Homo sapiens: one gene and its partner. The protein of the gene in region 1 interacts with the protein of each later gene in a pairwise test. Each region holds a gene or a part of one and is shown on either strand. Other genes may lie near its edges.

Region 1 (3,818 bases):
TCAGTGTGGCTCCATGGATGGGTTAGGTTGGATTAGAGCTGAGTAAGAGACAATCCCTCAGATCATGGGAAAGAAAAAGAGATGAAGACGCTAAAGGAATAGGAGAAAGACGGAAGGAATGCCAGAAAGGACAGAAAAGGAAGAGAAAGAATGGGAGGTCAGGAGTTGCTGGAGATCACGATATGGTTAGATCTCACTTCCCCAGGCCCCACTCCTCCAAGGACCCAAGGAGTTTTTACTTTGGGGGCCCCCCAGGGCATTGGGGGAATTTGTGGATGGAATCAGAGGAGAGAGCTGGAGCCTTGGTCCTCTTGGGAGTGTCTCAAGCCTCTTTAGTCACCATGGAGATAGGTTGCCTCTGGCCTCAGAGACTCCCCCAGGGCCTGAGGCCCCTCAGCCACGATTTAGCCTTCCTCCAACTCAGGCACAACCAGAGACAGGGCAGACCCAGGAGAGCAAGAAGTGAGAGATGGAGAGAGAGAGAGTGCAAGCAAGCAACCCAGGGTGGCCAGAGCAAGGAGTGGAAAGTGGGGAGGGAGGTAGCATCACAGGCGGAAGGCAGAACTAGGAAGCCTCTGCTCATGAGCAGGGAACCCCCTAAGAGTGGGGGTGCAGGGCAGGTCAATGCAAAGAACTTAGGAATTCGCCATGTCTCCCCCAGGGCCCCGCTCCCTGCAGCTCAGGCTGGTGATCATGGTGGGGAGACACAGGGGAGGGCCAGCGAATTGCTGGGTGTTGCCTGTTGTTGGGATGAAGAGGCTGGGGAAGGGACTTGAGGGAAGGACTTGCCCTGGGGGAAGGTGGCTGGTGTAATCAAGAGGTTCTCTGCCTTCACCTAAGGCAGGAAGGAAGGCTGAATGCTACTCCCTACCAGGTGCTCCAGTCTGAGGTCTGTCAGAGGCAACTGTTTGAGCAGATTGGAAAAATCAAGCCTCAGATGGGGCAGGACTTGGGTATAGCTCCACCTGCCCTTTCTGGGTCATTCTTAGGAAGAAAGCCCTATAGACATGGGGCAAGGGGACACATTGCCAGACACCTCCATTTGAAGGCTGGTCAGAAGGCCACTTTCCCAGACGTGGATAGGGACATGGGGGTGGATGGCAAGATGGTAGGCTAAGATAGTGTGGGGTACAATGGGCAGGTCTAGGATGTGGCAAGAGGCAAAGAGAAGGGAAGGGGAAATTGAGGTAGGACCTGAGGACAAAGGGCTGCTTCCAGTCTCTCTCGCTGCTTCTCTCAGTTCCAGAAAATAAGAAACCAAAACTCCAAAAATAGAGAACTTTATTGTCAGGGTCAAGGGCATGTGGGACCCAGCCCCAGAAGCCTAGTGGTGAGGAAGAGGTTAATGCACAATACACACAGAAGGCACAATGGGAAGGTGCCCTCCCCTGGCAGACTCCCCACTCAGTTATCCACAGGACCCCAGGTCTCCCTGTTTCCCTCCTAGAGAAGCACCTAGGTCTGGTCTGACATAGAGACCTAGGTTTGGAGTAGACTTCTTACCCATTTCCCTCCCCACTTACGCTCACCTGCCTACCACCCCCAACCCATAAGGCCCAGTAGCTGGTCCAGGGTCCAGGGACTTGGCAAATCACAGGTCTCTCCCCAGTGGGGAGAGGGCAGGGAGGAGACCACAGAGCACACCCTCCCTTAATCTTCACTCAGCCTAATCCGTGTGCCCGGTGAGGCACTAAGGCCCCACCTCCCACTGCTGGCTCAGGCTGGCCCCCAACACGGGCAGGCACAGTAAACCTGCTCCATCACTCCCACACCTCGGTCCAGATGGCTCCGTGGTAGGGGTGGGGTAGGGGCTGGGGTGTGCTGAGCTGAAAGGGCTGGCCTACCTGCTTGCTGGGGTATTTGGGGGGGTTGGTGCGGTAGCTGTAGTCGGAGTACTGCTCAGAGCCCGTGGACGTGGTGTCCCCGGTGCCCACGAATGTGTTTGCAGGTGGCAGGTCCTGTACCACCTGGTGCTTCTTGGAGGCTGAGGGTGACTGGGGCTGCAGCTGGATGGAAGGCAGTGGGGAGTTAGAGCGATAGTGGCGGCCCAGGTCAGGGCTGCCTGGTGGGTAGTTGAGGGGCAGGTGGATGCGGGGACTGTCCCCAGGGGCATCGCTCATCAGGTTGAACTTGAGGGACTTCTGCAGCCCGGCCTCATCCTCGTCCTCCACTGGCTTCACGGGCTTTGGGGACTTGCTCTTCTTGCCTTTGCTTTTGTTTCCCTTGGAGGCCTTGCCACTGGGCTTGGGGGCATACAGGTCCTTGGTCTCCTTCTTACCAGCCTGGTAACCACTTTTGGCCTCCCGCTGTCTGCAGTAGCGCACAAGAACCGCCAGGGCGATGAGCAAGGCCACGGCCACCACACCAGCCACCACACCAAAGAGAATGTTGCCACGCTGCTTGGAGCGCTCATATTCTGGATCCCCAGCAATGTCAATATCCAGCGGCGTGTCCAGGCTGTGGCCCAGGAGGGTCTCCAGCAGCGTGCGGTTGGCCAGAGTCTCATTGACATAAAGATGGACCAAGGCTGTGCCATAGCGTGGGGGCTTGCCGCGGTCACTGACCTTCACCACCAGGCGGTGTAGCCCATGGTGGCGCCGCTCAATCTCCTTCTCCAGGGTGATGGCACCTGAATGTGACCCAATCTGGAAGAGTCCATAAGGGTTGCCACCTGCAATGCTGTAGATCAGCTCAGCATTGACACCAGAGTCAAAGTCCTCGGCTGCCACCTGGCTGACCGTCTCACCAAGACGTGTCTGGGGGGTCAGCAGCTTGTGAGAGGTGTTAGAAGGGGCAGTGATATAGGGTGCGTTGTCATTCTCGTCCAGCACATTGATGGTGACACCAACGTAAGCTGAGCGAGGTGGGACGCCACCATCCACTGCCTTCAGCTGGAAGGTGTAGGTGCTTTGTTGCTCTCGATCAAAGCTCAGGCTGGATAGGATGGTGCCTGTGCCATTCTGGATAACAAAGTCACCGTTGTCCTGCTCCACTGAGAGCTGCACCTGGGCATTCTCCCCCTTGTCTCCATCAATGACAGTCACCATGCCCACTGGACTCAGTGCTGGCATGTTCTCCATCACTGAGAAGTTGTAGCCACTCAGCATAAATTTGGGGTCATTGTCATTGCAGTCCAGCACATTGACAAGGACAGTGGCTGTGCCCTGGAGGCTAGGACTGCCCCGGTCAGCTGCCACCACCTTCAACTCATAGCTCTCCCGCTGTTCCCGATCCAGAGATGTCTTCACCTGGATCTCTCCAGTCTCGGGTGAGATGGTGAAGAGGCCCTTAGCAGCCGGCTCAGGCTCCAGAGAGTAAACCAGCTCAGCATTAGAGCCAGAGTCAGCATCACTGGCAGTGATCTCAGCAATCACTTCACCAGGCTTGTTGTTTTCCGGGAAGGCGACCTCAGTGACACTCTGAGTGAAGACAGGTGCGTTGTCATTGACGTCCACCACCTGCACCTTGAGGGAGTTAGTGCTGGAGAGTGGGGGGTTGCCAGAGTCCACAGCCACAATCTCAATGGTGTAGTCTTTGACCTTCTCGTAGTCTAGCGGGGTGGTAGTCTGCAGGAAATACTTCTTCTTGCTGTCACTGCCTGTCTCACTGGCCTGGCGCAGCTGGAAGGGCACATCACCTGCCACCACACAGGTGACAGCTGCATTCTCTCCCTCATCTCGGTCAGACACCTGCACCAGGGCCACAGCTGTCTCCTCTGCCACATCCTCTGAGATGTTAGCCATCCCATCTTGATGAGTCACTAGCCCTATGCCCCGGATCTCAATGGTGGGGGCATTGTCATTCATGTCCTTCACGGT
Region 2 (3,818 bases), on another chromosome or scaffold:
CAAGAAATCTTGCACAAGGTGGATTTTACATGGGGTATCATGCACAAGATTAAAAACAAGACCAAAAGGTGGAAATTTTAAAAGAGGAAAATATAAAGGCTCCAAGGTTTAACTGCTCTGGGTAGAAGAGATCACATCTGTTGACTGAGGATCACAGAAAGGCCCAAAACGTCCATAAATATCCTTGGCTCGTACTGCAAAGTAGTATTTGCTACCAGATACAAACTGGGTGAGAGTACATGCCATGGGCAAGGGAAGTGCCTTGACTTCCCCAATCTTTTTCCATTGTGAGGGCACAGTGGCACTGGGTTCCTCATGGTAAGCATAGAGATGGTAGCTATCAACAGTGGCACAGCTTCGATCCACCTCCAGGACACTCCATGACAGTACTATGCCATTTTGACTCTGAACGCGTGCTAACTTCAAGTGTGGCTTCTGAGGCAGAGATGTGCTGGCAGCTTCTGGGGGCAGACGCTGTGGTTGTGGAGCTTCTGGTAAGGGTGCTGGGTGCACGGGGCGTGGGGGCTCCTGAAGAAACAGGTCACACTGATTAATGATGATTGCAAAAAGAACTATTTTAGAATGTTAGAATTAAAACACCTTAGAGAACATACGTAGAAGTATCATTTTATATCAAGAATTCTAGGAAATACCAAATACCATATCAAATTTGGCAAGTTCTATTTGGGGTTTTGTAATGAATCATGCTACAAACAATGATGCTGAGGTTATTCCTACTATACTTCCTAGACCTAAAATATTTTGAGTTTTTCTTAGGAAATAAAAAGCCCCTGCTGACGGAACATCATTTTGAGGAACACGGAAGTAATGATCTATTTCTAACAAAATAATTTATGATTGAATTATCTATGTTACAGATTATCATTTCAGTATGATGTAACATTTTTAAATATCATGTATGGCAACCAAGATCATATAAAATTGGAGAATACAAATATACTTTCATTTTTAAGTTATTTATAAATAAGCACATTAACACTAAATGTGTACTATATTCTTGGCCAATTTACAAGAAAAAGGTGATATTTAAACTCAACTGTGAAGGAGGATCCAGAGATGCAGAAATAATCATGTACCTTTCAGCCAAAAATAAAGCATGAGCAAAGGCATGTGGACAGTAAAGTGAGGGGACGTATGGACAAGAACAAGTATTAACTTTTTCTTGGACATAGGGTACATGAAGAAAAATCTGGAAAGGTAGGTTAAGGCCAGATGATGAAAAAACATGACTCTAACTTTAGGAAGTCCTATTGACTTTTCTAACACTGGAACATCATCATCATTATAATGATATTTCATACCAGTCAAACACTGACAAAATTGTGTCACAGGATAATGTGACATTGTTTTGGAGGCTAAATCTAAGGAGAAATCTTTGGTTATCTCTGTTACCTCTTAACTAATGAATTCCCAATATCATTGGATTCTTTAGAACAATTAATTGATGACAATGTAGCAGTTAGATGTGGCATAGTTTAGAACGAAAGAATAAAATTAACACATGGAGAAATGAAAAATGTCCTTTTTAATTTAACTATGAATTAGAAATGGTCTATATTTCACTTCATATACCCCAACTGTGGACCTGTTTTTGTACACTGTACACCACAAGCAAACTCAATGATTCTAAATGATCATCATCCCTAGGAACTATGTGTTCATAATGGTAAGATCAATTTTTAGAAATAAACTTCTGAAAAAGCAGGAAGACCTAACACTTCCCTTGGATATAACCATTTTAAAGAAAAATGCCAAATACAATAATATTTTATACCTCTACAGTTGAGAATTTTGCAAAACCAAGCATCAACACTTACAGTATGCACTTGTGGTGGTCGGTGATGCACTGTGAGCTGAGGTCCTGTTGATCCCAGGGTTAGTCCATTGTTTACAACATATGTGGTTGTTTGAGGCACTCGAACTGTAACACCTACAAACAAACAAAAAAATTACAGGATAAAATGATAATTCTATTGTAAATTTGGTGGAAAACTGATTAAATATTTGAAGGCAGTGAAGCAATGTTTTCAAGATTCGAAAGGAAAGATATTTCTAACCTAGAGGTCCTGTTCGTATTCAGCCAAGCTATCAATCAGCCTGTGGATAAAAAAACTTTCTTACATGCAAGCACTAAAAAAAAATTCTAACTACCACAAACCCTTTCTCAAATAGTCAATGGAGAATATGTGCCACCAGTACGTGAGAAAATAAAGAGAAAAACACGAGACACAAGCAACAGGAGGTCCAGCACAGGGAGAAATAAATGGATCGTTACCAGGAGAACTATGAACAAAAATCCTAGAACACTGGTTGTGTACCACATGTAAAAGGTAAATGGCCATAATGGAGCAGTGTGACTCAAAAGACAGACAAACTGGGAGTATCTTCATAAAAATCTCTGCAGTCTCATCTTTTCAACCAGGACAGAAAGCCAGAATAAGTCATCCTTGCCATGTATTAATGAGGTTCCTCTCATTTTCTCCATGCCCAGCTCCTTGGTTGAGGATACTCACTTCACCCCACAGAAAACTGCTGTGACATACACCAGGGAAACAAAAAGAGAAAATTTAGAGCCACCTACTGCCCTAACTATATTCCTGCCATTTATTCAGTACCTGGCCCATGCTGTAGTTCGGCCTGGTTCCTGGACTATAGTGAGCCAAGTTTCCCAGAACTCATTTCTAACCTTGTTGATTAATTTTCCCAGACAACGCTCTTGTAAACTTGAGAGAGTTGAAGCCAAGCTATGATCCAGGGACTCCAATCAGTTTATTTTCTAAATGATAGCATTACTGTGTTTCTTTAAATAGCTATATTTTCCCTTGCTGTCACATTTTGCAAAACTACAACATATGTGTGATGGTTAATACTGAGTGTCAACTTGATTAGATTGAAGGACACAAAGTATTAACCCTGGGTGGGCCTGTGAGGATGTTGCCAAAAGAGATTAACATTTGAGTCAGTGGACTGGGGAAGGCAGATCCACCCTTCATCTGGTGGGCACAATCTAATCAGCTGCCAGAAAATATAAAGCAGGCAGAAAAACGTGAAAAGGAGAGACAGGCTTAGCCTTAGCCTCCCAGCCTACATCTTTTTCCTGTGCTGGATGCTTCCTGCCCTGGAACATTGGCCTCCAAGTTCTTCAGTTTTGGGACTCAGACTGGCTTCCTTGCTCCTCAGCTTGCAGACAGCCTACTGTGGGATCTTTTTTTTTTTTTTTTTTTTTTTGAGACAGAGTCTGGCTCTGTTGCCCAGGCTGGAGTGCAGTGGCATGATCTCGGCTCACTGCAACCTCCGCCTCCTGGGCTCAAGAGATTCTCCTGCCTCAGCCTCCCAAGTAGGTGAGATTACAGGCTTGTGCCACCACACCCAGCCAATTTTTGTATTTTTGGTAGGGATGAGGTTTCACGATGTTGGCCAGGCTCATCTCGAACTCCTGACCTCAAGTGATCTGCCTGCCTTGGCCTCCCATACTGCTGGGATTACAGGCGTGAGCTACCATGCCCAGTCTATTGTGGGAACTTCTGATTATGTAAATTAATACTTAATAAACTCCCCTTTATATATATAAACATTCACTATATATAAAGTATTTTACATATATTTAATATTTATATATAATTAAGATATACTGTATATATATAGTAGGATATAAAGTATATATACAATTAGTTTATATGTAGTATATATTTTATGTATATACCCTATTAGTTTAATACATATATAATATATAAAATATATATATCCTATTAGTTTATATATAGTATATATTATATGAATACTATATATAGGAAACA

The links.
Region 2: the proteins of PCDH1 (region 1) and ATF7IP interact in a two-hybrid assay, tested with the Homo sapiens proteins (one large-scale study listed by IntAct).

The regions. Positions count from the first base shown.
Region 1 is NC_000005.10:141,861,388-141,865,205, forward strand, and holds part of PCDH1 (protocadherin-1 isoform 2 precursor), read right to left. Parts: coding exon 1,845-3,818; coding exon of another isoform or gene 1,761-1,844; exon of another isoform or gene 1,265-1,760; intron 1-1,264. UniProt on the Homo sapiens protein: May be involved in cell-cell interaction processes and in cell adhesion.
Region 2 is NC_000012.12:14,494,364-14,498,181, reverse strand, and holds part of ATF7IP (activating transcription factor 7-interacting protein 1), read right to left. Parts: intron 1,952-3,818; coding exon 1,839-1,951; intron 529-1,838; coding exon 109-528; 3' UTR 1-108. UniProt on the Homo sapiens protein: Recruiter that couples transcriptional factors to general transcription apparatus and thereby modulates transcription regulation and chromatin formation. Can both act as an activator or a repressor depending on the context.